2 separate regions of the Homo sapiens genome follow, and region 1 is linked to region 2. The links come from fine-mapping of genetic effects on gene expression. A gene starts in region 2. The other region holds a variant in brackets. All regions are shown on one strand. Distances are between the middles of the regions.

Region 1 (2,921 bases), 40 kb before region 2:
AGATTTACAATATTACATAAACTTAGTTGATAAAGCAGCAGCAAAGTTTAAGAGAATTGATTCCATTTTTTAAAGAAGTTCTACTGTGGGTAAAAAGCTATCAAACAACACTGCATGCTACAGAGAAATCTTTCCTGGAAGGAAGAGTCGACTGATGCAGCAAATTTCATTGTTGCCTTATTTCAAGAAATTCCGGCCAGGCATGGTGGCTCACGCCTGTAATCCCAGCACTTTGGAAGGCAGAGACGTGCGGATCACGAGGTCAGGAGATCGAGACCATCCTGGCTAACAGGGTGAAACCCCGTCTCTACTAAAAATACAAAAAAAAAATTAGCTGGGCGTGGTGGCGGGTGCCTGTAGTCCCAGCTACTCGGGAGGCTGAGGCAGGAGAATGGCGTGAACCCAGGAGGCGAAGCTTGCAGTGAGCCAAGATCATGCCACTGCACTCCAGCCTGGGGTACAGAGCGAGACCCCGTCTCAAAAAAAAAAAAAAAAAAGAAATTCCCAGGTGGGGCGTGGTAGCTCACACCTGTAATTCCAACACTTTGGGAGCTGAGGCAGGCAGATCACTTGAGGTCAGTTCAAGACCAGCCTGGCCATTGTGGCAAAACCTTGTCTCTGCTAAAAATACAAAAACTAGCCAGACATGGTGGCTGGCACCTGTAAGCCTAGCTACTCGGGAGGCTGGGGTGGGAGAATGGCTTGAACCTGTGAGGTGGAGGTTGCAGTGAGCCAAGACCGTGCCTGGGTGATAGATCGTGCCTGGGTGATAGAACAAGACTTTGTCTTAATTAAAAAAAAAACAAAAAGAGAAGAAACTGCCACAGCCACTCAGCCTTCAGCAACTACTAACCTGATCAGTCAGCAGCCAACAACATCAATGTAAGACCTTCCACCAGCAAAAGAGTATGACTCACTAAAGGATCAGATGAGCATTAACATTTTTGAGCAATATAGTTGACCCTTGAGCAACACAGGTTTTTTTATTTATTTATTTATTTTTTATTATTATTATACTTTAAGTTTTAGGGTACATGTGCACAATGTGCAGGTTAGTTACATATGTATACATGTGCCATGCTGGTGTGCTGTACCCATTAACTCATCATTTAGCATTAGTTATATCTCCTAATGTTATTCCTCCCCCCTTCCCCCACCCCACAACAGTCCCCAGAGTGTGATGTTCCCCTTCCTGTGTCCATGTGTTCTCAATGTCCAATTCCCACCTATGAGTGAGAACATGCGGTGTTTTTTTGTCCTTGCGATAGTTTACTGAGAATGATGATTTCCAATTTCATCCATGTCCCTACAAAGGACATGAACTCATC[G/A]TTTTTTATGGCTGCATAGTATTCCATGGTGTATATGTGCCACATTTTCTTAATCCAGTCTATCATTGTTGGACATTTGGGTTGGTTCCAAGTCTTTACTATTGTGAATAGAGCCACAATAAACATACGTGTGCATGTGTCTTTATAGCAGCATGATTTATAGTCCTTTGGGTATATACCCAGTAATGGGATGGCTGGGTCAAATGGTATTTCTAGTTCTAGATCCCTGAGGAATCGCCACACTGACTTCCACAAGGATTGAACTAGTTTACAGTCCACCAACAGTGTAAAAGTGTTCCTATTTCTCCACATCCTCTCCAGCACCTGTTGTTTCCTGACTTTTTAATGATGAGTAACACAGGTTTGAACTGTACAGGTCCACTTATATGTGGATTTTCTTCTGCCTCTGCCACCCAAGACTGCAAGACCAAACCCTCCTCTTCCTCCTCCTCCTCAGCCTACTGAACATGAAGATGAGAGTATGAAGACTTTGTGATGTTCATTTCCACTTAACAAATAGTAAATACACTTTCCTTCCCTTATGATTTTCTTAATAACATTCTCTTTTCTCTAGCTTACTTTATTGTAAGAATACAGGACATAATATATATTACTTACAAAATATGTGTTAATCAACTGTTATCGGTCAGGTTCCCAGTCAACAGTGGACTACTAGTAGTTAAGTTTTGGGGGAGTTAAAGTTATATGTGGATTTTTTTTTTTTTTTGAGATGGAGTCTCGCTCTGTTGCCCAGGCTGGAGTGCAGTGGCACGATCTTGGCTCACTGCAAGCTCTGCCTCCTGGGTTCACGCCATTCTCCTGCCTCAGCCTCCCAAGTAGCTGGGACTACAGGCACCCACCAACACACCTGGCTAAATTTTTGTATTTTTAGTAGAGACAGGGTTTCACCATATTAGCCAGGATGGTCTCGATCTCCTGACCTCATGATCCGCCCGCCTCGGCCTCCCAAAGTGCTGGGATTACAGGCGTGAGCCACAGCACCCGGCCGTTATATGTGGATTTTTAACTATGCAGTGTCAGCACCCCAACACTACTCAAGGGTCAACTGTAAAGTATTTTTTTAATCCAAGAATGAACAATGTTTTCAAAGACATAATGCTATTTAACACTTAACATACTATAGTGCAAACATAACTTTTATATGCAATAGGAAACCAAAATATTCATGTGACTTGCTTTATTGCAATATTCACTTTATTGTGGTAGTCTGGAACTGAACCCACAGTATTTCCAAGGTATGCCAGTAGAGTAAAATGTTAATTACAGAATCAAGTTGATGGGTTCACCTAGGTAGTACGTGTTCACCGTACAATTCTTTCAATTTTTCTGTATGTTTGGAATTTTTCATAATAAAATATTAGGGAAAGAACCGATGCACTAAAAAATTCACCAACATTATGATGACTGGTAAAATCTATTACACTTCTAATGACCTTATCAGTTCAACAATAAAAGGACAAAAGTAATTTGTTGCCTGACTCCGACTAAACCCTTGAAGGAATAAATAAGAAAAGGTCATGCCAGACTATCATCAGGCCTAATACAATACCCAAGGAATATTGGTTTGTGAAG
Region 2 (2,921 bases):
GCCTTCATCTTTTATCTATCAAAGTCTAAGTTTATCCATGTATAAGGCTGGCTGCAAACTCCTTCACAAATAAAAGTATACCCCATAAGTGCACATAACAGACCCCTTTTCCACTTCTATTGTTTGTAGAGGCATAAGGAAGACAAAAAATATTGAAAGATAAGAGTTTCATGGTAGTAGAAGTCTTAATCTGTGAACTTGGGAAAAGCTGTTCACATCAAGGATGCCATTTTCTTCTTGGGAGAAATTTCCCAGGGTAGCTTTACCTCAAAAGTTCCAATGGGTGCACTGTTCCAAAAGTGTGGAGGGACCGTTCTCATTTGCGAGACCATGAACCCAAAGCCCAAGGTCCTGAAGTTTTGTTGTAGTGTGGATGACAAGGACAGTCTTCTCCAATGTTTCCAGAAAATTCAAACCATAAAAAGCTTTCTTTACCGGGGGAAAATACACTGTAGCATAATAATCTACTGTTATAACATCAGCCCTCTTGCATGGGAAAGCTTTTATACAACCAGAATGACAAATTGGAATTCAAATAACAATTGAATGAAATCCCCTTACAAAATGTTTAAATGGCCCACCCGGTGACCAAATGTACATGAAGCTTTGTTTGTCTTCCCAGGAATATGGGACTAAGCATTGGTTATAAACTATTTTAAACAATTTCAGTATCAGCTGGTTTAATATGAAAATCTGACGAAGTATTTTCTTGGTATTTAATTAAATTTTTGCTTGTTTTACTTGGGTTAGTAGCTTTATGCAAGGAAATTTCATTCAAAGCAATGAAAAACAACAACCAGGGCTGATACTGACTACTAAAAACTGTTTTAAACTCAGAAGGAAAAATAATATGGATTTCAGGCGTTCCCAGGTTATAAATGGGTTTTCTGCATGTTTGAAACCAAAAACAAACTTTCCTATAGAAATATCAGTAAATCTAGCAAAGAAATAACACACCCCAACCGTGTCATAGCCTGTCTTAAATAAGGGAAAAACATGAGAGCACTAGTAAGAGGCAAGTAAAGGGTGCTTTGCTTTACAATTGATGGAAGCTCGCAGGCTTTGTTCTTGGCTGCCCCACGCAGCCAGCGGAAGGCAGGCCAAGGAGGAAAGAGCCCGGCCTCCCAGGTCCCCGCAACTACAACTCCCAGGATGCCGCGGCGCAGGCTCCCTGCGGGAGCAGGCTGGGCTCAGCTCCGCTGGACCCGCGCTGGGGAACTCTGGCCTCGCTGCACTCATGGCTTCTCCTAGCAAGGCAGTGATTGTTCCCGGGAACGGAGGCGGGGATGTGACCACCCACGGCTGGTATGGCTGGGTGAAAAAGGAGCTGGAGAAGGTAAGCGCCCAACGCCGCTGCTCCGTGAAGTCAGCCTGGAGGGAGGGACGGCGGGAGAGGACTGAGGGCTGAAGTTTGAATAGGCGTCTAATCCCCTCTAGCAAAGCCCTGTGTGTTTTCCTGCCTCTCCCCCGCTGCCTTCTCTTAAAGTCTGAGCTAGTGGTCGAATTTTGACTGGTAAAACTGCCTGGAAGACTTCTCTGAGGGCTCAGCCTTTAGAGTTAAAGGAACCCCTTTGAACTACCGAGGCTGAGCCCCTGAGCCCCGCCCCCCGTATCTGCTGCTGGTTCAGATTTGGGACTTCCCAGATAATTTTACATGTTCACTGCTTCCCGCTTCAGCTTTTAAAAAATTAAATATGCTATACTTAATATATACAAAGGATATACGTAACATGCGTCTACATTATGAGGCATAATGTAATGAATTACCAAACTAAAACCTGGGACATTGCCTATACATCATCTTCCAAACGACCCTTATGTCTACCCATCTCAGTCCCGTGCCATCCTGAATTTTTTCATCTGCTTCTCTTTTTAAAATTGAAGTACTTTTCAACCTATGAATATACCTTTTAAACAACAGACTGTTCTATTTGGCTTCTTGGTGAGCTTTATAAAAGTGGCATCTTACTGTAGGCTGACCTGTGCCGTTTGATTTTTATTTTTTAACCCTCTTCTGTAACCAGGCGGTAAGTCGGCTCCCTGGGTTGCTGTCCTCTAGAGCGGGTCTCCAGAATAGATTGCAGCGCTGTGGCTGAAAACCCTGGTCAGAGTTACAACCCCAAAGGTCAGGGCTGGAGCTTCTGAGAGTATGCTGTCTCCAAATTTCTGTATCACGTTCCTGTGCCACGTTTTACCTACTCCCTGGAACACAGTCTATTTGGCTCCAGGTCAGTCTGTCTAGAACACATTTGTTCATGCCTCTCTATAGATGCAGGCCTGTAGAGGCAAATATGGGTGTACAAATGCAGATATAGGTCTCTCTATAGAGATCAGCAGAGCTGCCTAGATACAGAACTACAGATGGAGTTCATGCGAAAAGATGGTCACTTAACCTACTTCATTTCATAACACAAGTTAATACTGAATTGGTAACGATCATATCAGGTGCCTCATTTCTTATTAGCAAAGTATTAGTTGTAATTAAGCTCTTTATTATAGCTTTTTCTCCCCCCTCATATCATAGATACCTGGTTTCCAGTGTTTGGCTAAAAACATGCCCGACCCAAGTAAGTTTTAAACTTGTTTTTAAATAGCCTCATCTTGTTGGGTTTTGATATTACCATTTTTGTGGTAGAGAACAAGAATATCATAGTGGAGGAACCAAAGATGCCTATATACCTAAGAAAGAATAAGGCAAGCAGCTTGGGGAGGAGGGTGTGAACCAAAAGCCATAGAAAATTCTTTTTTTTTTTTTTTTTTCAATTCTGTGAATTTGTCATTTTTATTTATTTATTTATTTATTTATTTATTTATTTATTTATTGATCATTCTTGGGTGTTTCTCGCAGAGGGGGATTTGGCAGGGTCACAGGACAATAGTGGAGGGAAGGTCAGCAGATAAACAAGTGAACAACGGTCTCT

Evidence for each region.
Region 1: its variant is fine-mapped to the expression of RBBP9 in nasal epithelium (TOPMed, PIP above 0.99).

Annotation. Positions count from the first base shown.
Region 1 is chr20:18,535,826-18,538,746 of GRCh38, reverse strand. The region is part of intron 12 of SEC23B (SEC23 homolog B, COPII component); the gene reads right to left. Among named protein-coding and RNA genes, the nearest start is that of SEC23B, 29 kb to the right of the region's middle. The variant G/A (reference allele first, on the strand shown) is at 1,329.
Region 2 is chr20:18,495,484-18,498,404 of GRCh38, reverse strand. It overlaps RBBP9 (RB binding protein 9, serine hydrolase), which reads left to right and starts at 1,180. Exons shown (of 5, transcript NM_006606.3): 1 at 1,180-1,336; 2 at 2,525-2,567. The coding sequence starts at 1,238. RefSeq lists enhancers at 1,018-1,077, 1,178-1,227, 831-1,395, 1,248-1,407, 1,578-1,627.